Linked DNA regions of Homo sapiens. The protein of the gene in region 3 interacts with the protein of the main gene of each other region in a pairwise test. Each region holds a gene or a part of one and is shown on either strand. Other genes may lie near its edges.

The links.
Region 1: the proteins of PTN (region 3) and CDH10 interact in a two-hybrid assay, tested with the Homo sapiens proteins (one large-scale study listed by BioGRID and IntAct).
Region 2: the proteins of PTN (region 3) and SLC25A36 interact in a two-hybrid assay, tested with the Homo sapiens proteins (one large-scale study listed by BioGRID and IntAct).
Region 4: the proteins of PTN (region 3) and ARL15 interact in a two-hybrid assay, tested with the Homo sapiens proteins (one large-scale study listed by BioGRID and IntAct).
Region 5: the proteins of PTN (region 3) and HSPBAP1 interact in a two-hybrid assay, tested with the Homo sapiens proteins (one large-scale study listed by BioGRID and IntAct).
Region 6: the proteins of PTN (region 3) and CSTA interact in a two-hybrid assay, tested with the Homo sapiens proteins (one large-scale study listed by IntAct).
Region 7: the proteins of PTN (region 3) and APOBEC3G interact in a two-hybrid assay, tested with the Homo sapiens proteins (one large-scale study listed by BioGRID and IntAct).

Annotation. Positions count from the first base shown.
Region 1 is NC_000005.10:24,637,749-24,642,190, reverse strand, and holds part of CDH10 (cadherin-10 isoform 1 preproprotein), read left to right. Parts: intron 1-4,442. UniProt on the Homo sapiens protein: Cadherins are calcium-dependent cell adhesion proteins. They preferentially interact with themselves in a homophilic manner in connecting cells; cadherins may thus contribute to the sorting of heterogeneous cell types.
Region 2 is NC_000003.12:140,958,250-140,962,691, reverse strand, and holds part of SLC25A36 (solute carrier family 25 member 36), read right to left. Parts: intron 3,230-4,442; coding exon 3,152-3,229; intron 1-3,151.
Region 3 is NC_000007.14:137,252,618-137,257,059, forward strand, and holds part of PTN (pleiotrophin isoform 1 precursor), read right to left. Parts: intron 2,358-4,442; 5' UTR 2,357-2,357; coding exon 2,242-2,356; intron 1,021-2,241; coding exon 847-1,020; intron 1-846.
Region 4 is NC_000005.10:54,167,078-54,171,519, forward strand, and holds part of ARL15 (ADP-ribosylation factor-like protein 15), read right to left. Parts: intron 1-4,442.
Region 5 is NC_000003.12:122,783,497-122,787,938, forward strand, and holds part of HSPBAP1 (HSPB1-associated protein 1), read right to left. Parts: exon of another isoform or gene 2,913-4,442; intron 1-2,912. UniProt on the Homo sapiens protein: May play a role in cellular stress response.
Region 6 is NC_000003.12:122,338,312-122,342,753, forward strand, and holds the end of CSTA (cystatin-A), read left to right. Parts: intron 1-3,127; coding exon 3,128-3,256; 3' UTR 3,257-3,658; downstream 3,659-4,442. UniProt on the Homo sapiens protein: This is an intracellular thiol proteinase inhibitor. Has an important role in desmosome-mediated cell-cell adhesion in the lower levels of the epidermis.
Region 7 is NC_000022.11:39,083,345-39,087,786, forward strand, and holds the end of APOBEC3G (DNA dC->dU-editing enzyme APOBEC-3G), read left to right. Parts: intron 1-386; coding exon 387-540; intron 541-2,934; coding exon 2,935-3,223; intron 3,224-3,666; coding exon 3,667-3,782; intron 3,783-4,062; coding exon 4,063-4,077; 3' UTR 4,078-4,399; downstream 4,400-4,442.

The DNA.
Region 1 (4,442 bases), on a different chromosome or scaffold from region 3:
GATGATGCTGAATCAGCAGCAAAGTGAACCATATTCTTGTTAAGTGTTATTATCAGTAATAGTGTTTCATAGTAAGCAATTAATACAAACCAGTGATGCAAACCCAACTATCTCTAGTGTAGCCCTTGGGTATTAAAAGCATTAGCCATATTATATTCTGATTTCTACTATGCAAATTACATTCTAATACTGCTGTCACATTAGAAGTACTTGTAAAATACTGAAATTATAAATAGAAAAACAGTAAAATTATTTATGCCAATTATAAGTAATTTTATGCAGATATTTGATCTCTAAATTTCAGGTCTATGTTTGAAAACTCTACTTTCAATTAACCCAACATATTATCTGGAATAGGGTTTCAAAAGAGACAACTTACTAACCATATTGTATTTAACAGTCATGTCTGGAATAGATTGAAGTTAAAAACCAAGTAGCAAGAAACATTTCCTCATCCTTCTTAAACGTATACTGAGCAATGGTAAAATTGATTAAGCGTTATACTAAGTACAATATATGGTTCATATTATGATATTTTAAGTAGTAAAAAGAAGCGTTCTCGGAATGACACTATAGATGCATATTTGAAAAACTGAAAGTTAGCACAGACAAATCTATTTATCTTTTCTTGACACTTACACAGACCAATGAGTTCACAAAAATATATTGTTTTGTCATAATTACAATAATCTGAAATCTACAGAAAAAATACAAGTCCTAAATTTAAAAGAAAATCTGCCTTTTTCCTTTCTAGTTGAAACCTTTGGATGATATTCACGGAGCATTCATATAATTTTCTGCATTTACCCCAATAAGTTCAACCTTCAAAATTACAGATTTTTTTTTCATGCATAAGAACAAGAAACAATTTCAAACAATTACCAAGCAATGCCTGTTTTCTAAGATAACAATATCAGCTCTGGGTCGCCTGTGCCCTCTTCTTTTCTGACTGTAGAGCAGTCTCACCTCACTTGACATTTTAGTATGAGCCCTTGAGCCCTTTTATAATCCATTTCTCCTGTCTTTCTTGAATAGAAGGGCACCTAAAGCGTATAAGTCCATTTTGCTTTTCCCATACCTTCTTGTCATCACTCACTTGAACTAACTGTAGACACATATTGTCAAAAAATAAGACCCATCACATTAAATTTGTAGATTTCTGGGAATGTATTATTCTTAATGAAATATTAACAATGATGAGTTGAAATAATCTGACCTGTTTAAAAATTATTAATACAACTTTTGCTTAACTCTCTTATCAATGCAACTTCTCACAAAAAAGTAACTCTTGATTTTTTTAAGAATGAAAGTGCTTTATTTTCATCAGTTTCTTTATATTTTTATCTGATTTCTTTCTGGCAATGTATGTGATGACCTATACACTTTAAGAGACATTGGTTAAACATTATGGAACTAAAGAAAGGGAAAGCTGCAAATTAAATAAGAAGGAATACAATAAAATCACATTTTACATCATTTTAGGAAATAAAATGTAGCATTCCTTCAAAATAATGCCTGCCTGTGGGAGATTGAAATGCCTTCATATAAAAATGCCTTTCAGTAAAGGGTTTCGTATCCTTAGAGAGTTTGTCAGAAACATTATAAGCACTTTACGAAATCACATGATTTCAATTTTCAATCTTTTCTTTTTTTTTTTCAAGAAAGTAGTCTTGATTCAACATACTCTATATGATGTGATGATATAAATTAAAGTTAAATGACATTTCAAGATTCAGGACAGAATTAAACAATAGACTATAAGATATAATACAACATTGCTTCACAACAGGAAATTCAGCAATAAATGACATTTCTAAACACTTCAGAGCCCTGCTGATCCCCATAAATTTAGCAGGTCATCTTCTCCCTCTCTCTCTCTTCTACCCCATCTCTCTTTCTGCAAATCTATATCTATTTCCATCTCCCTCTCTTTTTTCCTTTTCTCTCCTTCCTCATTTAAAACAATTACAAAACTCCTTGATTAAATTTCCCATGTGCTTTAAAAAAAATTGCCCTGTTGTAAAGTTATATTTCTGTAAATCTTGTGATTTTTATGGCCAGTATTCTATCATCTGCCACATTATACATTATATTTATTACACTATCCTTTGCATTATAGCACAAAGTATATGACAGTTCAGTTGGCTAGAATCTATTCTTTTAAATGAAAGCAACTCTTTTATAAATTTTATAACACTGAGGCTTCTAAGGAGTTGAAATTGGCACCAGTGTAGTTTACTGCACTAGCAAGCCAAGTGTGGGAATTCAGCACTTATTATTGAAATGACTCCTCCAAATTATCAGAATGTAGAATGTACAGACATGAATTATTATGCTCAATGCATAAGTTATTGATTAGGAATCTTTACTGATTTACTATAAGAGAGGATATTGAAATGGTTTGACAGAGCCCTGATTTTTAAAATAAACATAAATTACATGTTTCTAGAAAGCAATGTTTCATTAGACATGTTGATTCTTCTTTGCTGCAAGAAACAAGTATTACCAGTTTAGAATCTAAAAATGAAATCTGGTATATAATGAGCAAATGTTGTAAAGAACTACCATTGCTTTTGTTTCCAGTTGGAAATTTGGGAAACAGAAACTGTAACAATAATTGAGGTAGGCATAATATGTAACAAAATGAAATAATCAATAAGCTGAATACATTAAATATTCTACCTTGAGTTATACTGGGAATTCTCTCTATGGTTAATGTAATATGTATAAATACAAGAATTAAAGTTGAAATTCAATATCATTATCTGAATAGATCAAAGGCAGCCCATATATTTGCCCTAGTAATTGGAAAATTTGGAGTAAATTTTGTACATAATATTAATACAAACTTTTAAAATGTAACTGTTTCTCCTTTCGTAAAAATATAGCTCCACTCTCAATAAAATTAAGTCAAATAAACTTCCTTTGAATCCATTGTAAATTCTGGGACTTCTGAATTAAGGAATATTTTCATAATTACTGAAGCGAACTTCAAATTTAAATGAGGCACCATAATGTTTCCAAATAATTTGTCTTCTAAAGGTAAATTTTAAATTAGTAGGCTTATTTTTTGATAGATTTGAAAATATTTAGCTACCTGAGGAATTTTAAGGGTTTTGTGTTTCCATATAAATCTTCAACCTCTAAAGTGTATTTATCAATTATTTTATATAAAATATTTTCCTTAAATAAACCAAAACGTTAAAATTTTTATACCTCTAACTCAAGTGGTTTAAATCTATTGCTAATAAGATCAAAAACATGAATTACATACTTTCAAAACCAACAGTGTGATATTGATTTGCTTTGGTGATGACCTGAAGAAAAGAAACTATTGGAGTAAAATATATGTCAACTTATTACATCAAATAAGAAGCTGATTATCCAATGATTATCTATTAGCTTAGTCAACTATAATATATTTTCTATTCTTTTTTGACTTCTTCTTAAAGCATTATAAGTTGGGGGTTAGTCCTGCTCTGTAGTCTTGAACCATATTTTGTCACCAGAGTGATTTTTCAACATGTAGTCCCTGAAGAGTGAAAAACAGCAACATGCAGATTTATTCTGCCTGCATTTGGCTCCCTAAATTTGAATATTTCTCCATGAGTAGAAACTTACAGAAAATCTTTATTTATCTACCCCCTCAACCAAGACTTTAGTTATTCCTTTGGAGATGAGTTAAAAAATGAATCCTAAGCACAGACATATACTTAGAGGCACTGTCACTTTGTCTCTTTTTCCTTTTTTTGTTTTCAACTACTGAGTGAAGAGTGGAGGTTTTCTACAGAATTTCTACACTAAAGAAGTGACTTCCCCCCCTTCTTGCTGTATGCAATTAAAAATGATAAATGAGAACTCTACTTTTTCTGAGACTTTCTTGTCTTCTAGCTAACTGTCTTTTAAAATATATATCCTAATTTTCAATAGTTAATACTAGATAGTTCTACATAATATTTTAAAAATTAATTAATAAGCCTTCACTAACTTGGGAATAGGCATAAGTACTTGCTATCGATACTTAAAAAAACGGCAGAAATGAAATACTCCTAAAATCTAAGTTGAGAAAAATATTTTCTTTACTAATTTTTTTTCTCCCCTTGGACTTAGATTTGCCATCATATAGAGTATGAAATCTGAAATCCAGCCCAGTGGAGATGAGAAAATAGATGAATGGCAACCATAATCTTGACTTAAGAGCAATGAAATTAATCACTTTGCTTTATAAGTAGAGGCTAGATCAAGCCTGTTTCTAGGTAGGTCGAAGAAGAAAAAAGTGTGGATGAGGGAGAGCCTTGTACTTCATTAAAGCAAAATGAAACTTTGCATAGGAACCGCTGTTTCCAGAAACACCCTTAGGGAAATTTGAAATTTTTGATAGTACTTAGGGGCTCAGTACTATGAATTCAAAATTCACAATCATTAAATAACTCTCTTTTGAT
Region 2 (4,442 bases), on a different chromosome or scaffold from region 3:
ACTGAAGATAAGTAGATATGGTATGAGCACTTAACATATAATTTTCTTCATGGGGAGAAGAGGGTGAAGCAGATCCAACTGATTAAAGTATATGCTAAACAATTTTAAGATACTGTGGTATATTCTAATTATACTACACACACAGTAATTCACATTATCCTTAAACAGACAAAACAATTCCAACAAAAGAAATCAGACCCATCAGGTCAGAATGTTTTCCAATGTTTGTAAACACTGAGTGAAATTTAATTATTTCCCTCATTGTTAACTTACTGACTACGATTTTATGCATCCCCACTACCACCTCTATGTTAACTTCCCATGCTTTGAATTATTTGCTTGCTGTATGAAATATCCAGTTATTTCCCCAAAAATCCTGATTACTCATCCAATAAGAAACAGAGTGACAAATACAAATGAGAATTTCACTGTTGTACCTTTTTTAATGTACTTAAGAAAAAAGGAAAATTAATATAACTGAAAATGAAACATTCTAATTTATGAGAAAGAAAAACATAAGATACACTTGATGCCAAGTTGGGAAGAGGAATAAACAATGCATTTCTAGAAACTGGTAAGAAAAAAAGAAATCCTAATGAGAAAATGGCCATGAAATATATATAGGCAATTCACAGGAGAGATATACAAATGACAAATTACAAGAAAGTATGACTGCACCAAAAATTAAATAAATCATATTAAAACAGTGAAAAATCCCTCTTAGTCCATTTGGTAAGTATTTAAAAAAGATGGACAGTAGCCAGCATTGGTAAGGCTATGGATAAGGGATAAAAATCCAGTATGCCTTTTTTTTTTTTTTTTTTTTTTTTTTTTTTGAGACGGAGCCTCGCTCTTTTGCCCAGGCCGGAGTGCAGTGGCCCTATATTGGCTCACTGCAAGCTCCGCCTCCCGGGTTCACGCCATTCTCCTGCCTCAGCCTCCTGAGCAGCTGGGACTACAGGCGACCGCCACCACACCCGGCTAATTTTTTTATATTTTTAGTAGAGATGGGGTTTCACTGTGTTAGCCAGGATGGTCTCGATCTCCTGACCTTGTGATCCACCCGCCTTGGCCTCCCAAAGTGCTGGGATTACAGGTGTGAGCCACTCTGCCCGGTCAATATTCACTAGTCTTAAATATGCATATGCCCTTTTATCCAGAAATTCTAATTTTAGGTGACCATCCTAAAAAAATATACTTCCTAAAGTATTCAAAGATAAAGGTTGAGGTATGTTTACTGAACCATTGTTTATACAATGAAAATCTAAAAATAATCTAAATGTATAATAAGGAAATGTTTATTAGTGCTAGAATGCTATACAATTTTAAAAAAATCACCCCACATATTATCATGGAAAAACTTCAGTTAGATTAGGTTAAACATTTAGTATTATTCAGTTTATGTAAAGCACAATAAAGTATACATGTTTTTATGTATATGATAACCGAGAAAAATTACTGGAAGAATATACATGAACTGTCTATTAATGGTGTTTTTTTTCTTTTAACTTGTTTTATAATTAGGATGCAATTTTGGATATTTTCTTAAAGAGAGAAAAGAACCCATAAAAAGTTGAAACGTAATAAATAACAAGACATGGATCTGGTACATGGTTTGGATACAGAAAGCATTTTCACTCTAAATATGAACTTTATACAGTGTTCTATCATGGAAGAGGTTAACAATCTAAGATGCAATGGTGTCAGAGAAAAATGACGAAGTTATGTTTTCATGTCCTTTTGGCTTAATAGGGACTGCAACCATTCTATCTGTTTGGTTTGTCCCATAAGCCAAACAATGACTTAGTTTTAAGAGTTCCAGATCTTCCCCTTTCTAACTGCTAGTTCCTTTGGTTGTTCCTTTAGTTATTAGTTCCTTTGCTTGTTCTCTGTCTTTTGACTTTTTTAAAAACTACTTCACAATGGTCTTACTATGTGGTCCTTTGCACCTACACATGGTGCCATGCCCATCCTTTTAGATGGTTACTGATACCTGTTTGTCACACCATAGTTCTTTATCCTTATCACCTTGACACCTCTTCAGCATCTTCCTTGAATAGCTTCCTTTTTATTATGGTAAAGGCCATGTACATCACTTACTGCCCTTCAACGATACACAAATTCTCAGGTTTTTAGACTTTTTGTCCCTTTCTTCAACCCTGTTCTAAGCCCTGACATCCTTCCTAGTCCTTTGGTTCTATTTTCTATCTTGTTTCTTTGAAGTTTAATTTCTATGTGGAAAGTGAGAAAGGAACACTAACTTCAGGTGGAGCGCACAGCAGGACAGCTATGAAAAGCAGAAAAAGTCGAGATATCCTAAATGCCTTTTGGCCCAAGGAAAATATTTTGTTTAAAAGAATGCTTACCTTTCTTAGAGTCAAAATTTTTCAAGATGCAAGAGCTGGTTTAGTTAAACTCACAAATCTAGCAAACACTTATCTCAAAATATCAGGAGTATTTTGCAGCCTTAGCCCTGTGTAGATTTTCAATTCTGCACCCCCAAATTCTTCTAACTCCTATGGTCAGATGAGAGGATAAGCATCTCCCCAGAAGACTCAATACACTGCCACTAGCTACGAGAGTATTTCCATTTATCCTGCAAATATTAGTAATTTTATATCTCCTAGTCTATGCAATATAAAGATATATAATATATTCATTATTTTCAACTTTGATTACAACATCTCCCCCAAAAAAATCTCAGGTCCATTTATAGAATTTTAACATTTAAAACTCTTATCTATAAATACACTGTTCCTTAAACTTCTAGGTATAATATGCGATACTTTATTATTTTCCCCCAGTATAAGACTATCAATAATTTAATGCAAATACTATACCTTCTCCCTCACATTATGAAACATAGCCTTTGTATTCATATTACTACTGTTAATTTCTAACAGCAATGAAATACTGTTAAGTCTTCAAAATATCCAGTATCATTTCCTACCACCAAACATTACTTTATTATATAAATTTGTTCTGGCTAGAATCTGAAATTCTTAAAAAGAAAATTAAGTATTTTAACTTCCCATAAACATTGAATACTACATTTATAAATTTAACTGTATCTATAAATGATTAAATCCAGGTGTGCTGAAACAAAAGAGATTGCCATAACTTGCTTTAAACAATTTTTTTTTTTTTTTACCTGGAAGGGGCTACCCCCACTAAATTGGGGCCTAGTCCTCTAAACAAGGAACGAGGCCCTTCTTTTTCCAAGATCACCCTGAAAGAGAGAAAAAAAATTCTATCAGAAATATCTTTCAAAGTCTGGTACTTTATTTACTTTGTATATAAAGTTAGAGTCTAAATCCAGTACATTTGTATTATGTTGTGCTTCTCTGGTGAGTTTTCCTTACTTATTAAAAATTTGTGGCCAGGCATGGTGGCTCATGCCTGTAATTTCAGCACTTTGGACACTGAGGCAGGCAGATTCCTTGAGGTCAGAAGTTCAAGACCAGCCTGGCCAACCTGGTAAAACCTCGTTGCTAATAAAAATAAAGAAATTAGCTGGGCATGGTGGTGCATGCCTGTAATCACAGCTACTCAGGAGGCTGAGGTAGGAGAATCGCTTGAATTTGGAAGGCGGAGATTGCAGTGAGCCAAGATTGCGCCACTGCACTCCAGCCTGGAGACAGAGCGAAACTCTGTCTCCAAAAAAAAAAAAAAGAAAAAGAAAACACACACACACACACACACACACACACACACACACACACACACACACAAAACATTGTTTTTTCATGACATAGCATAAATTGTTGAAGACTGATAATAGATTTACTAGTAATGATTAAAAAATCTGTTCAGATTCTTTCCTGAAAGATTAAGACACAATGATAAAGAGTTCTACATTATTTTCATATGATCATGCTACTCTTATCTTCGATTTCCTTAATTTTACTATCTTTACCAGCAAATTGAAAGCTTAATAACTACCCGCCAATTAGAAATGTAGTTCCTTCCTAGTTTTCAGGTCTTTTACTCAACATTGGACAATACTTCTTACTACTACAGTATTATCTCATCCCCATTCCATTGAAATGCTGTAGCAGAATCTATCACCCTAATGTCCTTTAAGGTACCAGAATGGTTGGCCTGTTATTTCTCCTGCCACTCAGTTAACCGTTGCTATACTGAGTATTTAACTGTATAATTAGCTGTTTATAACTAGAAAAAGTAAGTAGATAGAAAAAAGAAGGCGAGGCCCCTGACATTGGGAAATTTGCTGTTTTGTTTTGGTAAAAAGAATTGTAACAAAACAAATAAATTAACAGACCATATTAACAAGCAAATACTATACAACCTAGATACATATATGCCCAGCAGAGAAAGGAACAGAGCCATGTGTAAGTCACAGAAGACTTTCCTGGAGTAAGTTATGAAATGAAGTTTTGGCAGTGAGAAGGAATAGAAACTGAAGAGTAGGTATTTTAATT
Region 3 (4,442 bases):
GAGAAAAAGACATACATGTATACATCCATTATCCTTCCTCACTTGTCTATGGGCCACAATGCATTTCCATAGAACACAGATAGGACATTTCAGGCATCATGTCCCACTATGGCTAAGAAAGACAAAAAGTCTGGATTGTGGAAGAGGTTATTTGAGGGTTCAATACTGGATATAAAGTTGAAAGTGTTGAGAGATCCTGTCTCAGATAGATAGATCAGGCCAGCATAAGACTGACTCCAGTCAGTGGGAGAAAGATTTATGAAACGTGGCTGTGAGCAGCCCTGCTGAACTCAGTAAGTGAATCTGTGAAACTGTGTGGAGGTTGGGGAGGGATCAAATGGGAGAGAAGGTCTGAAAGTGACAGGGAGAAACATGGAGAAGCAGGAGAATAAATAAGAAAAGGGGAAAGGAAAAATCAAAGGAACTTAGAAATAGAAGAAAGGAGAGAGAAGACAGATCAATTAACATTATTCAGAGGAATCAAGGATATATTTTATGTCCCTTTGGAAAGGCAGTGGTTCCCAACCAGGGATGATTTTGACCAACAGGGTACATTTGGCCATAGATATTTGGAGACATTTTTAGTTTTCACATCTGGAGCGGGTGAGGAATGCTACCGGAAACTAGCGAGTAGAAGCCAGCGATGCTCCTAAATACCCTAAAATGCACAAGACAGCCTCCACAACAAATAATTGCCTGGCCTGAAATGGGACCAGTCTGGTCACTTTGTGTCTGGTAAGATAAAGTTATTTAAAATAAAAAGTACTTATCCTTAAAAAGACATTTGGTGGAAAAATTTGAGAATTATCTCAGAGTAGGAGATTAACTCAGTAGCATGAGGCTTACCGCCAAATTGCTTCTTCCAGTTGCAGGGGATCTTACATCTCTGGGTCTTCATGGTTTGCTTGCACTCAGCTCCAGTCCGAGTGCCCTCCCGTGTGCCCAGCCCACAGTCTCCACTGGTGGGCACACACACACTCCACTGCCATTCTCCACAGTCAGACTTCTTCACTTTTTTTTCTGAATGAAAGGAGGAAAACCTAATCAACATACAGAAAACTCCTTAACTTCCAGATATAACCAAGTTCATTCCTGAGCACCTTAATTGCAGGATCTGTGTTTTTTAATCTGTATCCTTATTGTCTAATGAATAGTAGAAACATGATGAATATTAACCAAATTATTGAACCAATGAATGATCAAGAGAAGAGAGAAAGAAAACTGAGAAAAGAGCTAAAACTAATATTAATTGAACTCCCTCTTACTATGTGCCAGAGACTGTGCTAAGTGATTTAGTGGCATCTCCTTTTAGAAGCAAACATTTCTATAAAAGAAGAGATGGTCAAAAATATAGTTCTCCTAAAAATGAAGAAAATATTCTATTAGAAATAACAGTTGTCAGCTGGGCAAAGTGGCTCATGCCTGTAATCCCAGCACTTTGGGAGGTCGAAGCAGGCAGATCACAAGGTCAAAAGATCGAGACCATCCTGGCTAACATGGTGAAACCCCAACTCTACTAAAAATACAAAAATTAGCTGGGCGTGGTGGTGCATGCCTGCAGCCCCAGCTACTCGGGAAGCTGAGGCAGGAGAATCACTTGAACCGGGAGACAGAGGATACAGTGAGTTGAGATCGCACCACTGCACTCCAACCTGGTGACAGAGCGAGACTCCAACTCAAAAAAAAAAAAAAAGAAATAACAGTTGTCAAATGAGCCATTTCAGTGTAAGTTGTTGTTCCTTTCTCTGCCTTGTAGAAGGAATGACATCATACAAATATGGTGCATCACAGATTTAAACAGACTGTCAGTTCCACAGCCTACTTATGACTTTGGGAGTGGCATAGAGAAGGTGCTTTATCTTCTCTGTGCTTGTTTCCTCCTCTGTAAATCTGAAATTAAGGAGAAAAACAAGTTGCAGTGCATTTTTTTTTTTTTGAGGTAGAGAGGTAAATAATAAAGCACCTGATTACCGGTCAATGTTCTATACATAGTAGCTGCTAATTTGATCATTATATTAATGATCATCATCGTCATGCAATCCAAGACTTACAATGGGAGAAAAATAAGACAGGATATTTCTTAGGTTCCTCTAAGTAATTATTTTTGAAAAGGGAAGATTGAAGGAATAGAGGAATAGGAAGGGAGAGAGGCAGAGTAGAAGAGAGGAAGGAAAAGCAGGTAATTAGACTAGATGGACATTAATCAATGAAGCATCTTGCCTTCAGAACCCTACTGCTTACCTGGTTTCTCTTTCTTCCCTGCTTCAGCAGTATCCACAGCTGCCAGTATGAAAATGAATGCCAAGAAGGCAGCTGCAAATTTTCGACGCTGCTGCTGGTACTGTTGAGCCTGCATTCTAGGAATAAACAGAGAAAGAGAAGAAGGTGGCATTAACCTAAGTCAGAAAGGAAGATTCATTGAACCCTTGATGAAAAGGCTCCACTTTCCATTTCTGGAATGTTAGATTTCAGGAAGATTCATATCAATTATCTTGGGTAGAATTTTATCTATTCTTACCAACAGCCATTGAAATAAGTGCTCTTCTGCAATCAATCACGTATTCACTGACAAAACGCAACAGTTCTTCACTTAAGACTTCACAACCATTTGCTAAGTATGACTCAGAAATTATGGAAGCAAAAGAACTTTGAAGGCATGCATTTGAACACAGTCCTACTGTCTTGCTGATAGCATCACTTGGTAATATCGACAACTACAGCCATCTTCAAAATTCCTGACAATATTAGAAACAACCACAGCAATGATACTGCTGTACACAAGACCAATTTGAGTAGACATGATGAATGAATTACCTATACAAGTATATGTTTACTGTTTCTATTTAGACGCATACACAACAACCAACATCTCTGATCTTTTTAAAATCATTGTCATAATCATCACTATCATCTTATTATTCCATTATTTATTGATCTAACAAAGAGTGAATCCCAGAAGTAGAGCTAGCACACCTGTGATACATATCAAACACAATGATAAATTCGCATGTGCTAAAAATCCTCTAATCTTAGGATATGGTGAAGTCTTTACACTCACTCATAATAGGAAATGCTCACATTTGATGTGAATCAAAAATCCCAAGATATCATTAGAAAGACTCTCCTAGAACTTGAAGCCACCTGTGACAGCCTAGTGTCAATATGGTCACTTGGCCAAAACACCCTTGAGAAAGTTTCAGTCCAAGCTCCAGGACGACCCACTTCCCAATGGCTACACCATATCATGGCTGCAGCAACTTGCCTGGCAGTTATTGAGCTCCATCTGCTGTGTTAGTGGTGTGTTATACTTCACATAAAAATGGTTGTAATGTCCTATGATCATAGGCTGATAATTTTTTTTCCAGAGGTAGTACTAGATTAGTTTAGGTGTTTCAACATTCTCTTTAGTGTGAACAATAAAACGTTTCATGTATATAAGGGGTTGAGATTATTCTTTTCTCTAATTTATTTTCCTCATTGAAAAATATCTGAGATGATATCCTTGCCCGTGAATTTTTCTCCTTTTCTGTGGCATTGTATATGCTGTCTCTTATTAGTGTTTTTTTAAATTTATTTATTTTTAATTTTACTTTAAGTTCCAAGATACATGTGCAGAATGTGCAGGTTTGTTACACAGGTATACATGTGCCATGATGGTTTGCTGCACTTATTGACTGGTCCTCTAAGTTCCCTCCCCTTACCCCACACCCCTCAACAGGTCCTGGTGTGTGATGTTCCCCTCCCTGTGTCCATGTCTTCTCAATGTTCAACTCCCAGTTATGAGTGAGAACATGCGGTGTTTGGTTTCCTGTTCCTGTGTTAGTTTGCTGTGGATGATGGCCTCCAGCTTCACTCATGTCCCTGCAAAGGACATGATCTCATTCCTTGTTATGGTTGCCTAGTATTCCATTGTATATATGTACCAAATTTTCTTTATCCAGTCTATCATTGATAAGCTTTTGGGTTGGTTCAATGGCTTTGCTATGTAATAGTGCTGCAATAAACCTATGTGTGCCTGTGTCTTTATATTAAAATAATTCATATTCCTTTGGGTATATACTCAGTAATGGGATGGCTGGATCAAATGGTATTTCTGGTTCTAGATCCTCAAGGAATCACCACACCGTTTTCCACAATGGTTGAACTAATTTCCAGAATTTACAAGGAACTTAAACAAATTTATAAAAAACAAAACAAAACAAAACAAAACAAAAACCCCATCAAAAACTGGGCAAAGGATATGACAGACACTTTTCAAAAGACATTTCTGCAGCCAACAAATATGAAAAAAAGCTCAACATCACTGATCATTAGAGAAATGCAAATCAAAACCACAGTGAGATACCATCTCAAGCCAGTCAGAATGGCAATTATTAAAAAGTCAAGAAACAATAGATGCTGGCAAGACTGTGGAGAAATAAGAATGCTTTTACACTGTTGGT
Region 4 (4,442 bases), on a different chromosome or scaffold from region 3:
TTATAAGTTTTTCAGTCCATCTGGTGATTACAGGCATAGTTTTCAACCCTGTATGAACACCAACCACTGTTCCCTCTAGTCCTTTAAGATGGTTCTTGCCCTGGCCTTGGGAAGTTTCCTCACATGCATGCATTGAATATTTTGCTGGATACTCAAGGGAGACTCTGAAAATCTTTAGTGTTCTCTCTCTGTACAACTCTTTTCTCTGGTATTCTATTCTATGAACATTAGCCATCTTGGTCTCCCCTTGCTCTCGGCTTCATCTCCTCAATGCAGGGAGTTCACTGAGCTCCACCTCAGCTCCCTCTGGAACTGTGCCACAGCCTGGAAACTCTCAAGGCATTAAGCTGGGACAATCACAGAGCACATCTCATTTGTTTCTCATTTCTCAGGGATAACTGCGTTTCCTGGCTTGAAAATTGTTGCTTTGTATATTTCATGAGCTGGTTGCTGTTGTTGTTCTTCTTCTTTTAGATGGGAGAGTAAACTAGTTCCAGTTATTCCATCTTACCAGAACAAGAAGTCCTCACTCATCCTTGTGCTCACTGCCCTCTCTTGAGCATATTCAGTCTTGCCTTTTCCCCTGATGACCACCCTAAACCTCTGACTACTAGCATGCTCAAGAGACCTTTTCTTATAGAAACAAATTCTCTTAGCACTATTTTCTCTTTTTCTGTCCACCTTCTTGAAAGAACTGTCTATATTCCAAAGAGTTAAGGAGTGAAAACGATGGTCTACCCCTCAATTCCTTTGCTTGCTCTTCATCCCCTCAATTCTCAGGTTGGTTTCCACCTCAATACTCTACTGAAACTGTTTCTACCATTAGTTATTAATTACCACGTTGTCACCACATCCAATGGCCTTTCTCAGACTTTAGACTTACGTTTACCTTATTTGACTGGTTCTTTTGATTTCTTGCCCATATTTGACTTAAAGGATATTATATAGAACTGTCTGACCTATATTCCTTATCAAAAGCAGATGCTGTAATGTAAGCTCCAAAGAGCAGGGTTGTTTGTATATTTTGTTAACTGATATATCCTCAGTCCTTAAATCAGTGGCAGTCACATAACAGACATTCAATGAATGTGGAATGAATTAACAAAATATAATTGGTGCTTAGCACCTTTCTTCCCGCTTTCTACCCATTACCCCTGGACAAGCTCATCCAAATCTATGACTGAGTTGTCTCTCAAATCTCTCTAGTCTGCTTGGCTTTTAGCATTTGGATCACTGTTGGATGTCTTGTCAAACCTCAAAATCAGCATGCCCCAAACTAAACTCATTATTTTTATCTTAAAACTCTGTCACATTCTCCCTACTTTTTTTTTTTTTAACAATTCACCAAAACATAAAGCTATAAACTTGACTCATATTTGATTGTTTTATCTTCCTTTCCTCTTGAATACCCAGCATAACTGTCACTTTTACAGTAGCAGTAACATCCCCACAAGTATTGTCCCTGCTGGATCACCTCTACATCTAACAGGTCTCCCCCAACAGCTTCTCTAAGTCTCTAGCCTTAGATCCCAACATCCCCTAAATCTCTGCATGCTGTGCCTTAACCCAGTAAGACCACTAATCTTTCTCTGAATATACCTATGCTTTCTATCCCTAACTCTCCTCACCCCATTCCTCTCTGCTTAGACCTTACCCATCATATGAGACCCTACTCAAATGTAACCTTAACTATGAGCTTTCTTTGACCCTCCAGATTAGAAATGATCACTCTCCTCTTTTAACTTTCATATTTACACCATTAATATAACACATATCACATTCTGTCTTAGCACAGAGCCTGGAGTATATTAAATAAGCAATATATGTGAACTGTTTTTATCAATACACAACTTATCTTCCTAACCTGGGTGTAAACTTCTTGATGGCAGCTTCCTCCAAAGAGGCCTCCAAAAAGACATTATGCCAGGTTCAGAACAATGACAACTCAAAGAAGCTTGATATCCAAAAAATTAGCCAACCTAACAACTAATTCATCAGAAAATAGACTAGTGCACAATTCTGGTAAAACGTATTATTAAAAAATTTCATAAAAACAAACACAAAACATAACTTACAAGTAAGAAAATTATATACAGATAATCTTTTACACTATAATTCAAAACTGCTCCTCTAGCAATAGTGCTAGAAGATAACTCTGATAAGTGAAGAAAAGCATACTTTGTGTTACTCTTACACATATTTTAGAAGCTATTTTGATTGAAAAGACTTAAGCTAATAAAGTTTATATAACTTCATTGCACATTACTCAAAAGATATTCACAGTTTTATAAACAACCAATAAAGTACCTACTTCCACCAGAAATCCTAAACCTTGGATACCACTAAACTTCACTTGAACACCTGAACTGGCATCCTATCTCTAGCTATGTAACAATAGCCATGTCACCATACCTTTGATCTTCAGGTAATTTAGAAACAGAATATGGAAAAAGATTCCTACCTGTCATATAAGGGCTGTTATAAGGCTAACAGAAGACTATATAGATTCAATTTACTTTCATTTGCTTATTAACAGACATCTGTATCCATGCCTAAACCTTGTGACAGACTCTGGGTATACAATACCACATATGATGCTCTAGCTGCCCTTAAGAGATTCTAACCCAAGATGGGGAGATGGGCACATACATAAAGCAGTGCTACAGGCACTAACTGGGAGAAATACGGACAACGCCCAGTGGGGAGAGGAGGGAGTACTCAGTTCTGTCCAAGGAGAAAAGAAGGTAGTCAGAAACAGCTTCCTGCAAAGAGGCTACACATGAGCTCTGCTAATCTTCTCTGGGGTCTCTACTCATTACAATCCCCTTATCCTTTCCCTCATCCTAAAATCAAGCAATGTCTCTAACCCTTTAACAGCTCCACAGTTTCTTATCTCAATTCTAAAATCTGAAAAGCTCTCAAAACCTGCACTTTTTTAAAACTTACTTGCCGGCAAAAGCTGACGTGAACTGAAGTAAGGTTCTTGATCAACAATATCCTTTCTACTTTTTGTAGGAAATCCTAGTTAATAATTCCATCATCCAACCATCACGTAAGCCAGGAATTGAGACAGCCATGGCTTTCTCACTCTCACCCTCCAAACCCAACTACACTAGGCTTTGTCAATTCTAGCTCTCAAATATATATCCTACCTATTCCTTCCTCTTCTTCCCCCTGTAACTGCCTCAGCCAAGGCCTTCATCATCTCAGTTGCACCATCACAGTAATCTTCTGCCTCCGCCTCCAACTGCGCTACTCACAATTTAGCCTCCACATCATGGCCAGCTTGATTCTTCTCAAATGGACATCTGATCATGTAGTTTCCTTGCTTAAAATACTCTGATGTCTCTGCACTATCTACACGAAAAGCCCAAACTCCTGAGCACAGTATGAAAGGTCTGCTAAGATTCAGCCACCACTGAATACAATTTGTCTCCTGGCACTCTATTAAACATACACTGCAGCCACACACAAATGCAGTTTCTAGGAGTTGCCAATCTGTTTGACACTCCTTACCTTCACACTGCCCCTCTGCTCCTAAGTCCTCTTTCTTTTCCACCCCCTCACCTTATTTCTTGTACCAGACCTACTTATCAACCTCAAATCTAATGTAGCAAACCAAATCATGCATCCTTCCCTTCCCCAGGTCCAGGCAACACTGTCATGCCCCTTCCTTCCATGCCCCATCTATTTCTGGATATGAACTTAATGTTTATGCAGCCAGTATACTGAGACTCCTGGAATGCTGAAATCATCGCTTATCTCATGTCTAACACTGGACCTAGCACATAGTAGGTGCTCAAAATAAGCTGGCTGATGAACAATCTTTTCAACTTTCCAGAAAACATCTCACCCTTCTCCTTCCTTCTCAGCTCTCTCTGCACAGCAGCTCTGTTCTCTATCTCTTACAGCTGTTCTTCCATTATTTCCTCTTATACTCTTCTTTCCTTCTTCATTGTCAGAAGAGAAAGAGGACACATTTGGGAAGTGAAGAAAAACCCTAGCCAGGATTTCTCACTAATAACTTGACACTGAAAACATTTTGGGCCTGATAACTCTTTGCTGTGGGGGCTGCCCTGTACATTGAAGGATGTTTAGTAGCACCACTGGCCTCTATCCACCAGAAGCCAGTAATACCCCTCCCCACAAATGACTCCAAAATGTCCCACTCAGAGGCATAATCTCCCCTGATTGAGAACCACTGCCCTAGACTGACTTTGCTTGGCTCCATCAGGAAGCAATAGGGGAAGGCTGATGCATGATCTCTTGCACTGACTTTCCTCCAGGTGAAAAATGACAAGGAAAGAAGATTCAGACTACATCAGTTTACTATTCAGGGAGTGTGTGGCCAAGAAACATAGGCTGGAGTGACACTTCAAGGAAGGAAAGTACTCTATGGGCCCAAGATGAATCCATTTTGTCATATATCAGAGTTCCAGATT
Region 5 (4,442 bases), on a different chromosome or scaffold from region 3:
TAGCTGAGGCTGACGTAAAACAGGTTAACAGGGAAAAGCATACAAACATGATTCAGTACTTTTTACATGTACATGGGAGCCCTCACAAGAAAAATGAAGACCGAAAGAAGCAGTTAGAGCTTACTTAACATCTATATAGTAGGTTGGACAAAGAGTAAATTTAGAAAACATGACAAGACAAAGAAGTTGGGTGACTGCAGTTAATTGTGGAAAAGTGACTGGGAAGTTAAGGGTTGGTTTAACAAGGTTTGTTTGTACAGATTTCTCTCAGCCTTTATTACCCATCTTTGGTTATAAGAATGTCTTCCTTGTTCCTGGTACAGGGAGGGCAACTTTCTTTTTTTTTTTTTTTGAGACGGAGTCTCGCTCTGTCGCCCAGGCTGGAGTGCAGTGGCGGGATCTCGGCTCACTGCAAGCTCCGCCTCCCGGGTTCACGCCATTCTCCTGCCTTAGCCTCCTGAGTAGCTGGGACTACAGGCACACACCACCATGCCCAGCTAATTTTTATATTTTTAGTAGAGATGGGGTTTCACCATGTTAGCCAGGATGGTCTCAATCTCTTGACCTTGTGATCCACCCACCTTGGTCTCCCAAAGTGCTGGGACTACAGGCATGAGCCACCATGCCCAGCCTTTTCAATGCCTTTTACCCAAAATAATCAATATACCAAAGTGGCATATTTGGGGGTGGCATATTTTGATCCCTACACTATGAAAAGCTATAATATATTCATGATAAATAGTATTCTGTTTTTCATGGGATATAAATTGGAATCATCCTTTGGGAAACAACTGGGAAAAATGAAAGAACTGTTCATTATCTCAGTAACTCATGTTAAAGGAATTTACTGTAACAAATAATTAATCATAAGCTATGTACAGCATACACATACACACACACAAATGTCTACTACCACACTATAACAACAAAAAATGTAAACAACCTGATGCCCCAAAGCAGAAAAATATTTACTAAATTATGACAAGGCAATCCCATAGTATACTATATCCACTAAAAATGAGGGCTGTCTAGAAATATGTAGAGATATGAGGTGGGAAGGGAGAGTTGGACCTGAAGTTGACTCAGAGAGCTATTGCAATAGCCAAGCGATAAGTATGATACAGGCCTGAACAACAGGGGTGGCAGTGAGTAAGTCAGATATGGTGAAGATGAAGAAATACTAAGAGAATAATATCAAAGGCTATTACAACCAGAGATGTGGGGTGGGAGTCAGATGTAGCCAAAAGACTGAGGTGTCTAGACTTGGTGACTTGCCATAAGAGAAGTCAGGAGCAATAGCTCATTCTTTTGGGAAGATGAGTAGCTTGATTTTGAACACAGGCATCATAACAATACCATACATTTAACTGTTTAATGCTTCACTGTTTACAATGCACTTTTACAGACATTAAAAGTGCTCATGTGATCTTATAAGAAGCCTGTAAAACAGGCAGAGACGGTAATTCATTTCCATTAATTGAAGGAAGAAATGGAAGCTTAGATGTCAGAGGACTGGAACCAGATTTATCAGGTCCCCTCAGTCCAAGTCCAGTGCTCTTTCCACTGCACAATCCTATTTCTAGAGAATTGACTGTGTGATTTAACTAGGGCTAAAAACTCAGAAGAAAAAATATAACCTGAAAGGATACACAGGAAAGCTCAAGATCAATTCATAGATAATCATTCACATGTGCTCCAGGGAGAGAGGAATGTTTTGAGGAGTGCATGAGTGTATGTGCACGTGCACTCATGGCAGGGAGTGCTAGTTGCCTGTGACAAAGACTCTTTGCTTGGCCAAACTTTAGTCAGGCTTTAATTCTTCTGCTAGGTCCATCTATGCACTTCCTTGTAAAACCCAGTTTTAGGAAAGAACCTTGCTAAGTCAGTTTAGCAAGAATTGCCCCCATCCCTGATATCTGATCAGGTTCTTCACCCCCAGCCAACCTCCAGGTGGTATCTGATCACCTTGGCCTGCCTTCAGCAAGAATCCTGTTAGGTTGGTTTTTCCAGATTTCCCCTTACCCCTGATGTTTCCTCTTAGTAATTTCTTATCCACTGACTCTGCTCCTTGGCTGTAAATTCTCACTTGCCCATGCTGTCTTTGGAGTTGGGCCCAATCTCTCTCCCCAGCTGTGGGACCCCGTTACAGTAGTCCTTACATCTATGGTGATGGTCCTGAATAGTCTTCCTTACCATGCCTTAACAAGTGTCACTGAATAATTTTTTATTTAACTTCTACTTACCCAATACTCATTCTCTTCTTCCTTACTAAAGAACTTTGGGCAACAGGACTGACTGAAAAATTTTATTTCCCAGACTTCTTTGCAGACAGGAGTAGCCAAATATAGATAGATAGATAGATAGATAGATAGGGAATATATATCTATAATTTCCATGTGTGTGCGTGTGTGTGTGTGTGTGCACGCGCGCACATATGGAAGTTGCGAGTCAGCCTTTTTGCCCTCATCCTTTTCTATATACTGCCTGAAAAGCAGACATGATGATTAGCCCTCTTGAGAGACAAATGAAAGGTCCAGGAAATCGCAAACCTTAACCAAAAGAATGCAAATATGTTCATCTTTGTGCTACTGAACCAACTACTACCTCCTGAATCCTTTTAGATTAAAAAAAAAAACAAAATTCCTTCTAGTCTAGACTGTTATTAATTCATAGCTGGTATAACACCTTGCTTTCTGAGGCCATCATTTTCAAGGATAACCATATTCTCCCTCTACACTGTTCTGTGGCTTGGGCTGGATGAATCATGGCTGGTCTGACACACTGTAGCATTCTTTCAGTTCCAAGCTTGTAAAATATTCAACCTTTGAACATTTTGCTTCTGGAACTTTAAAGGGCAGAGAAAAACAGAAGCATGAGTTACTTTGGGGTAGCGATTTATTTATTCTACTTACCTTACATTAGAGCCAATAGATCACATGGCTTTGATTATTCCCAAAATGGTTCATACTTGGGTAGATATAACTGGGTAGCCTTCTATAAATATGGACACAGGCGACAGTAACACATGAGTAGTATTTTGACAAAAAAGCTATAAAGAAGTAAATATTTCTTCTCTAGCATAAAGTTAAATTTAAAAAATGTAATTATCTGATCTAAAAATCCCACACATCCCAGAGATTATTTAATAGGAGACCTCCAACACTAAAATTTGCTGAGAGAGTGCCTGGCCTAGTGACTGGTATATATTAAATGCCAAAACATTTGCTAAATGAATGAGAGCACTATGAAGTGTGTGCAAAGCAGAGTAGCAGGATGTTCACCATAACAGGAAATTAGCATATTTACAGAATTTCAGGCCCATCGTGAAATAAAACAATCAGCTGGTTGTGAGATAAAACTAATTTAGCTTCTGATAATTTAATCAACAATAAACTGGGCCATTAAATTAATGAATTTAAATGTTACAATTTCCTTTAAAGAAGAATGCAATGCTACCCTGTATTAGTTAAACAGCCTATGGATGCACCCAGTTATTCCATGCTAATAATATTTTGCAAAGAGCTATAAAAATTCTGAAGCAACCTCAACAGTCTTCAAAGGATAAGGGTATTTAGGTCTAAACTTGCAGCAGGTAGTAATTTTTAACTAGATGATTTAGAAACTACTGAAAAAAAACAGATTAGTGATCTGGGTGTTACCCAATAGTTTTTTCTCTCTCCAAATGTAGGATGTTCTCCAGTCAATTTATTACAGCCTGAGTTGCAACTAATTCTTTGGAGATAGTGAAACATCATCAAAAATAAATTGCGTCCTTCTCAGTAATTTTTTAAAATTAATGTAAAGTACAAGATAATTTGAAACCTAATTTCTCTGAGAACGCCAACTATCTGGTGTCTGTCAATTAACACCTGGCCTGGATTTGTATCTGAGATTTAGACTTTAAGACAAGAATAAGGAACATTTACCATGTGTCCAGGACACTCCGAATATTAACAGAATATAACAAAAATCTTGAAATTGAAATTAACTTGTCTCTCATCAGATATAATTTTAATGAAAAAATTAAAGATTTTTAAAAACCTTTAGAAGTTGACATAAGAGTAAGTCACACATTACACTACAGAGAATCACTATAATGATACAGCATGAATTTAAAACTGGGTCCTGGCACAGTGAGATCATTTATTTCTGAATGTATACATCTAAGTGTATATATGGTGTTTCATCAAACAACTATTGTATATACATATAAGAAAGTTTAAAACCTCTGGAATGGTAGATATTAGGGCAAAAAATAATGACCATTTGGGTCATGTTAGAAAAACCTGATGGAATCGTGCAAGTACTATCTGACAAAATTACTGGATTAGTACTGAAGACTGAATGGTAAAACTTACACCAAAAAGAATTTTTCATTTTGTAACCACTATTTTAAAATGTCAACACAAACTAAGAAAATTCTCCTGAAAGGTAACATAATA
Region 6 (4,442 bases), on a different chromosome or scaffold from region 3:
AATATTTGAGAGCCATGTTTGTCCTTATATATTAAGAAGATGATAATGCTGATTTTAAAAATAAAAACAAATATTCAAGTATATTTACTTAATCTTTACTTCACTATTTGACCAGGGCACAGTGTGGCTTATTTCTCTTTAACAAATATTTCTATTAAAATATAAACATTTTAAAAGATTTTTTCAGCAAAAAAAAAAAAAAAAGTAAGTGAAGTAAGTGGAGCTAGTCAGCTCAGCATAAGAAAGTTTCAGTACAGAGCTATGTACACAGATCAGCCCTGTTCTGCCAAATGTGAGCTCCTAGTAACGACCAGGTCCCGGGGAGACACATGTGAAAGAGGACCCTGCTGTATCCTCAGAAAACAATGGCACCATTTCCTCCATTCTCAATCTGCTTTCTTCATGGCTGGAAAAGAAAGTTTTCCAGTTAAAAATGATTATGTGCAAAGATAGGAAACATTCCATCAACATTAACATATTTAATAATTTATGATTAATTCAAATGCATAAATTTCACATATTACCAGCTCACATGTTTCTTCAACAGTTCATCAGATAACTATCTTGAAAATTTCTGCTTGAAAATTTGTTCCCTTGACCACCCTTTTGCCCTCTCTTAATCAGTCTCCTCTCTCTCTCTCATCTTTTCTTCCTTCTGCTATCAAACTTTTCCTACTGGATCTCAGCCACCGATCCCAGTTCCCTTTTACTTCCTGGTAGTCTGGCTGTTGATCCCTTTGCTCTGAGGCACTCTAGATTTAAGGTCTTGCCAGTGATGTGACCTTCTCTATGTATTTCAAGTACCTATCAAGAGGTAGGTGGTAGAATGGAAGGACCACAAGCTTAGGTGTCAGAGTGTCCTGGGTTTGAACCCTTGTTCAATTTGTTCTATGGGAAGCTCCTCCTCCTCTCTGAGCCTTCATTCCCTTATCTGCACAATGAGGGTAATAATCTACTTCGCAGCGTGTTGTGAGGAATAAATAAGCTGGAAATTTATTGAGCACTTATAATTCACTATGCACTATTCTAAGAACAGGGCTTATCTCATTTAATCCTCACAACAAATCTATGAGATAAGTACAATCACTTCTCTTGGGTTACCAACGAAAAAACTGAGTTCCAGGGTGGTGAAGAAACTAAAAAGATCACACAACTACAAGAGCAGAGTCAGGATTTGAACCCAGATAGACTGAGCTTAACTACTGGCTGTGCTGCCTCTAATATAAAGCACAAAATAAGAGCTTTTACAAGGTTACACTGGCCTGGTGTGGTGGCTTATACCTGTAATCCGAACACTTTGGGAGGCCAAGGTGGGAGGATAGCTTGAAGCCAGGAGTTTGAGATCATTCTGGGCAACATAGCAAGACCCTGCCTCTACAAAGAAAATGTTTTAATTACCTAGGCATGGTGATGCACACCAGTAGTCCTAGCTACTTGGGAAGCTGAGGTAGGAGGATCACTTGAGCCGAGGAGTTTGAGGTTGCAGTGAGCTGCGATCGCACCACTGCACTGTGAGCCAGGCCTCATTCCCCGATCAGTACCCCCCAAAAATGTTACATTGTAGAGTGAAAAGAATGTAGATGCTAGAGGCTAACAGATCTGGGTTTGAATATTGGCTGTGCCACTGACTAGCTGAGAGATTTATGGAAAATCACTTAATCTCTCCTACTCTGCTTCCACGTCTGTAAAAATTTCATTGCTCCACTTTTCTTCAGGCCTATAATATAGGTTAATATAATCATTTATATAAAATGTTCATCATAGTGTCTGGCTCACAGTAAACATTTGATATATGGCATTTGTTAAAATTAGGATAGGAAGTGACATCAGAAGCACAATAAATATTTGTATAAGACAAAGCATTTATTGTCTCCAGCAAGAACCAAAGTAAAAATTCTTACCATAATTTTCCAGGTCTCAGATTCATGTCCAAACTACTGCTTCTGCTTCAACCTTCCTACCAATGACTTCCTAGTAAAACCCCTTAGCTTTTTTTTTTCTTTTCTTTTTTGAGACGGAGTTTCACTCTGTCACTCAGGCTGGAGTGCAGTGGCACAATCTCGGCTCTCTGCGACCTCCACCTCCCGGATTCAAGCGATTCTCCTGCTTCAGCCTCCCAAGTAGCTGGGATTACAGATGTGCACCACCACACCCAGCTAATTTTGTATTTTTAGTAGAGACCAGATTTCACCATGTTGGCCAGGTTTGTCTCAAACTCCTGACCTCAGGTGATCCACCCACCTTGGCCTCCCAAAGTGCTGGGATTATAGGCGTGAGCCACAGTGCCCGGCTGGCCCCTTCACTTTAGAAGGGAGGGTGTCCGCCCCCTGGGCTCTGCTCAATCCTACCAGTGGGTGTTTATAAAGTAGGTTCTGATATAGGTATGGGAACCCTGCATCCCAAATTTTCTAGGGCAATTCTGATTTTCTTCTCCCTTATCAGACTGTATGGCAAACAAAGTGTCCCAAGTTGAGAGTCAGAAAACAGTATCACCAAAAATATAGGCTATCACTTGTTTTCTTGCTCCATGCATCTTTGAAAATAAAATGCTGTCCTTTGTGCCCAGATTATACTAAAAAAAATAACAAAATAAACCTAGGACCTATGCCTCTTGCCATGCCATTAGTCTACAATTTTTTTTTTTTTTTAAGACAAACTCTTGCTCTATCACCCAGGCTGGAGTACAGTGGCATGATCTCGGCTCACTGCAACCTTCTCCTCCTGGGTTCAAGTGATTCTCCTGCCTCAGCCTCTAGAGTAGCTGGGATTACAGGCATGCACCACCATGCCCGGCTAATTTTTTGTATTTTTAGTAGAGACGGGATTTCACCATGCTGGCCAGGCTTGTCTTGAACTCCTGACCTCGTGATCCCCCTGCCTCAGCCTCCCAAAGTGCTAGGATTACAGGTGGGAGCCACGGCACCCAGCCTAGTCTGCTCTTTTTCTCCTAAAATAAGGTGGTGGATTTATGAATACAAAGAGTCTAAGAATGGTGGACTAGGTCTAGCAATGCTGTTCCTCAGCAGCTTTTTGGACAGAAGTCTTTGTAGACCTGTGGCTCTCTCACTTGATGTAGACCCATTTGAATGAATCTCCTTTTGCTTTCTCTTTCTTTAATATTTTTCAGGTACGAGCAGGTGATAATAAATATATGCACTTGAAAGTATTCAAAAGTCTTCCCGGACAAAATGAGGACTTGGTACTTACTGGATACCAGGTTGACAAAAACAAGGATGACGAGCTGACGGGCTTTTAGCAGCATGTACCCAAAGTGTTCTGATTCCTTCAACTGGCTACTGAGTCATGATCCTTGCTGATAAATATAACCATCAATAAAGAAGCATTCTTTTCCAAAGAAATTATTTCTTCAATTATTTCTCATTTATTGTATTAAGCAGAAATTACCTTTTCTTTCTCAAAATCAGTGTTATTGCTTTAGAGTATAAACTCCATATAAATTGATGGCAATTGGAAATCTTATAAAAACTAGTCAAGCCTAATGCAACTGGCTAAAGGATAGTACCACCCTCACCCCCACCATAGGCAGGCTGGATCGTGGACTATCAATTCACCAGCCTCCTTGTTCCCTGTGGCTGCTGATAACCCAACATTCCATCTCTACCCTCATACTTCAAAATTAAATCAAGTATTTTACAAAGTGTGTGTGTGTGTGTGTGTGTGTATATATATACTTTTTTTTTTTTTTTTTTTTTGAGACAGAGTCTCGTTCTGTCACCCAGGCTAGAGTGCAATGGTGTGATCTCGGCTCACTGCAACCTCCACCTCCCAGGTTTAAGCGATTCTCCCATCTCAGCCTCCCAAGTAGCTGGGATTACAGGCACCTACCACTGCGCCTAGCTAATTTTTGTATTTTTAGTAGAGACAGGGTTTTGCCATGTTGGCCAGGCTGGTTTCGAACTCCTGACCCTAGGTGATCTGCTCGCCTTGGCTTCCCAAAGTGCTGGGATTACAGGTGTGAGCCACCTTGCCCAGTCTATATTTTTATTCTGAAACAAACTTAAACATAGAGAAAAGTTGCAAAAAAAAAAAACCCACTTTTTTTCCTGGACATTTGAGACTAAGTTACTTACCATGATGCCCCATCATCAACAAATACTTCAGTGTGCATTTCCTACAAACAAGGATATTCTCCTGCAAAACTGAAATACAACCATCAAAATCAGGAAATTGCCAGGTCGCAGTGGCTCACGCCTGTAATCCCAGCACTTTGGTAGGCCAAGGCAGCAGGATTGCTTGAGGACAGGAATTTAAGACAAACCTGGGCAACATAGCGAGACCATGTCTCTACAAAAAGAAATTAGAAATTAGCTGGGCATGGTGGTATGCACCTGTAGTCCTAGCTACTTGGGAGGCTGACGTGGGGGGATGGCTTAAGCCCAGGAATTCGAGGCTACAGTGAGCTATACTCATGCCACTGCACT
Region 7 (4,442 bases), on a different chromosome or scaffold from region 3:
GGGTGCCCCAGTGGGTCCACCTCCAGCAAGGACTGAGAGCGAGCAGAGCCAGGACTGGGGTCTATGGTGAGGCCAGGGAAGAAGACCCAGCTGTACCCCAGGGAGAGGGCCTGAGCACACTGAGCTGACCCTGGGGAGACCCTGACAAGGCTTAGACAGGCCCCAGGGCTGCCGTGATCTCCCAGTGAGCCCCAGAAGGGGTCAGAGGGGGAGGTTTGGAGGCTCTAGCAAGTGAGTGGGAGCCCCTTCTGACAGGTGCTAAGGGATGTGGGGAGCCGGGGGAAGGAAGGAGGGTGGGGTGCAAGGGAGGAAGCGTGGAGAGGGAGGGGGAGGTGGGACAGACCAGGAGGGCTCTTACTCCTCTGGGCTTTTCCCCCACTTTCCAGACACTCGATGGATCCACCCACATTCACTTTCAACTTTAACAATGAACCTTGGGTCAGAGGACGGCATGAGACTTACCTGTGTTATGAGGTGGAGCGCATGCACAATGACACCTGGGTCCTGCTGAACCAGCGCAGGGGCTTTCTATGCAACCAGGTGACCAACCCAGCCACCCGCATCCAGGCAGGGCCCTCCCAACCCAGGGACACCCATGGGCAGAAGGTTCTGGGTGGTACCTGTGGTGTCCTGCAGAGTGTCTGTCACCTGTGCTTCCTGTAGCTGCTGCTGCTTGGCCCTGGGGTTGGGGGAGACTTCGGCTTCAGTGACTCTCCAGGATTGGTGGCTTCCAGCCCCACACGCCTAACCAGCCACATGTCTCAGGGGCTAACACCACTAGTCCAGAGTCACCCCCAGGTCCAGGTCTCAGCCGTCCCCACTCCTGCTGTGCTCTGAGAGGGTCAGGGCAGAGGAAAAGGGTCTGCACCAGGGCCAAGTGGGATCAAAGAAAAAGCGCTTCCGGCCGGGCACGGTGGCTCATGCCTGTAATCCCAGCACTTTGGGAGGCCGAGGCTGGCGATCACAAGGTCAGGAGATCAAGACCATCCTGGCTAACACGGTGAAACCCCATCTCTATTAAAAATACAAAAAATTAGCCAGGTGTGGTGGCAGGCGCCTGTAGTCCCAGCTATTCAGGAGACTGAGGCAGGAGAATGGCATGAACCTGGGAGGCAGAGCTTGCAGTGAGCCAAGATCGTGCCACTGCACTCCACCTGGGCAACAGAGCGAGACTCCGTCTCAAGAAAAAAAAAAAAAGTGCTTCCTGAGGACCCTCCCAGGATCCCCTCACAGACACAGCTCCCACCAGGAATGATTCAGAACTGTGGGATTTGAGGATCAGGGCCTACCTGACCTCACAAGGCCAGGATTCCCCAGTGCCTGCTCCTGGGCTTCATCCTGCGGGAAAAGAGACTGAGGCAGGAGAGGCCGACCAGGGATTCTGTCCTGACCAGGATGGAGCCCACAGCAAGGCCAGAACAGGCCCCAAGTCAGGATGCAGGGATGGCCAGCATTTGAAGAAGAGCTGGGCCAGGCCAGGCCGAGGGGCCCTGAGCCCGAGGGACGTTCTTCCCTCGCCCTTGCCCAGCACAGCCCCTGGCTGGAGAGGCCAAATTCTGCTTGGCTCTGGTGCTGGAAACGGGGTTCCTCTGGGCTCTATGAGCTTAATATGGGCCCTGCTGGGCCCACACACACTGCTTGGAAGCTACTTTCAAAGGCACCGGTCCCCATCACTGTCTAACCAGTGGGATGGGACTCCCCCAGGAATGACCCACAGCCCCTTCTCAGCACAAATCGTGTCATCCATTCTACCCCGAGTCCTCTCTGCACTGGACTCCTGGGCTTGACTAGTTCCCAGTCGAAATTTGGACAAAACACCATCATTCCTTGGGCTCAACAAGGACAATCACCCCATGACTGGGGCCCTTCCCAATGTGGGGTTAGTCCTGCTGGGGGCCCCTCATCCCCACTTCTCCCTGCAAAGGGAGCCCTCTGGCCTCAGTCTATGTCACTCGTGGGCTTAATACAGGGTAAAGCACAATGTGGAAGCTTCTAGAATTATAGGTCACAGAAGGGGTGGGGCAAGGGGAATTGACGGGTAGACAGGTCAGCCTCCCCATGAGGGAAGCACACGCAGCTCAGTGGCATCTGTCCTCCCTCCCCCAGCTCTACAGCCCCTCCCTGCAGGCCTGGGGCGGAGTGAGGGTCCTGAAGGCACTGACCTCATGTGCAGAATGAGAGGATGCTCCAAATACTCAGTATCAGAGAAATCTCATCGTAATGGAAAATTAAATTATTTAATAGATTATTGTAAAAATCCGGTCAGGTGTGGTGGCTCATGCCTGTAGTCTCAGCACTTTGGGAGGCTGAGGCGGGCAGATCACTTGAGGTCAGGAGTTCAAGACAAGCCTGGCCAATATGGTGAAACCCCGTCTCTACTGAAAATACAAAGATTAGCCAGGCGTGGTGGTGCATGCCTGCAGTCCCAGTTACTGGGGAGGCTGAGACACCAGAATCGCTTGAACCCGGGAGGTGGAGGTTGCAGTGAGCCAAGATGGCGCCACTGCACTCCAGCCTGAGTGACAGAACCAGACTCTGTCTCAAAGAAAAGAAAGGAAAAGAAAAGAAAAGTCATCTTGATAACTGGGGTTTGGTGCCCCCGTCTAATTTTGTGCTGGAGGCTGCCCCGCACCCACCCTGATCCAGGCTGTCCCTCCTGACTCACTAAAAATTCCCTCGGCCGGGCGCTGTGGCTCATGCCTGTAATCCCAGCACTTTGGGAGGCTGAGGAGGGCAGATCACCTGAGGTTGGGAGTTTGAGACCAGCCTGAACCACATGGAGAAACCCCTTTTCTACTAGAAATACAAAATTAGCCTGGTGTGGTGGTGCATGCCTGTAATCCTAGCTACTTGTACACTCCAGCCTGGGCAACAAGAGTGAAACTCTGTCTCAAAAAAAAAAAAGATTACCTCATGGCTTGCTTTCTTTTCTAGGCTCCACATAAACACGGTTTCCTTGAAGGCCGCCATGCAGAGCTGTGCTTCCTGGACGTGATTCCCTTTTGGAAGCTGGACCTGGACCAGGACTACAGGGTTACCTGCTTCACCTCCTGGAGCCCCTGCTTCAGCTGTGCCCAGGAAATGGCTAAATTCATTTCAAAAAACAAACACGTGAGCCTGTGCATCTTCACTGCCCGCATCTATGATGATCAAGGAAGATGTCAGGAGGGGCTGCGCACCCTGGCCGAGGCTGGGGCCAAAATTTCAATAATGACATACAGTGGTGAGAATGGAAGCCTGGAGTAGGATGGGGTCAGCCAGGGCAGGAGAGGGCCCCGGGAAGTTACTAGAAAGTGGGGAGGGTCGGCATCCCTGTGGGAAAGGCCTTGATCCTCTGCCTGCAGAGGCGATGGCTGCACTCTGGACCTGACTTTGGGGTCGACGGGAAGAGAGAGGCCAGGCCAGGAGATGTGGACCTGGGGAGGGCGGGGAGGGTGGCTGGAAGTGGAAGCAGAACTTGGGGCTTCCAGAAAAAATGAGAACTGGGCTGGCCCAGATTCCAATAGGAAAGAAGTGCCTGATGAAGGAGCTAAGTCCCTAGGGGAGGGAGAGGGAAAGGAGGGACTGAAACCAGGATGTGGGAAGTCTGTCTTGAGAGTCATGGGCCTTTGGTGCCACCACGATCCCACAGCGGGAGTGTGACTTATCTCCCCTGTCCCTTTTCAGAATTTAAGCACTGCTGGGACACCTTTGTGGACCACCAGGGATGTCCCTTCCAGCCCTGGGATGGACTAGATGAGCACAGCCAAGACCTGAGTGGGAGGCTGCGGGCCATTCTCCAGGTGAGGGCTTCTTCCCTCTGCCCAGTGCCCCATCGGCCTCCCCCTCCTCCCCTCTCCCCTGCGCCGTGCCTTCCCCTCTGCTCAGAGCCTCCTCTGGGTTCCCTGCTCCCCCAGGGCACCTGTCTCTGTCCCTCCCTTTCCTTCTCACAGCCTCCCTTTCTCTCCCACCTCCCACATCCCTCCCTCCTCTCCGATCATTGTCACTGTCCCCAGGCCTCCACCATATGCCTACTTTCCACTCGCTCACCCTTTGCTCCATTCAACCTCCCTGCTCTTCCAGAATCAGGAAAACTGAAGGATGGGCCTCAGTCTCTAAGGAAGGCAGAGACCTGGGTTGAGCCTCAGAATAAAAGATCTTCTTCCAAGAAATGCAAACAGGCTGTTCACCACCATCTCCAGCTGATCACAGACACCAGCAAAGCAATGCACTCCTGACCAAGTAGATTCTTTTAAAAATTAGAGTGCATTACTTTGAATCAAAAATTTATTTATATTTCAAGAATAAAGTACTAAGATTGTGCTCAATACACAGAAAAGTTTCAAACCTACTAATCCAGCGACAATTTGAATCGGTTTTGTAGGTAGAGGAATAAAATGAAATACTAAATCTTTCTGTATATGTTTCCCTGTGTGATTGTATCATGAATTGCAAGTGTTTCC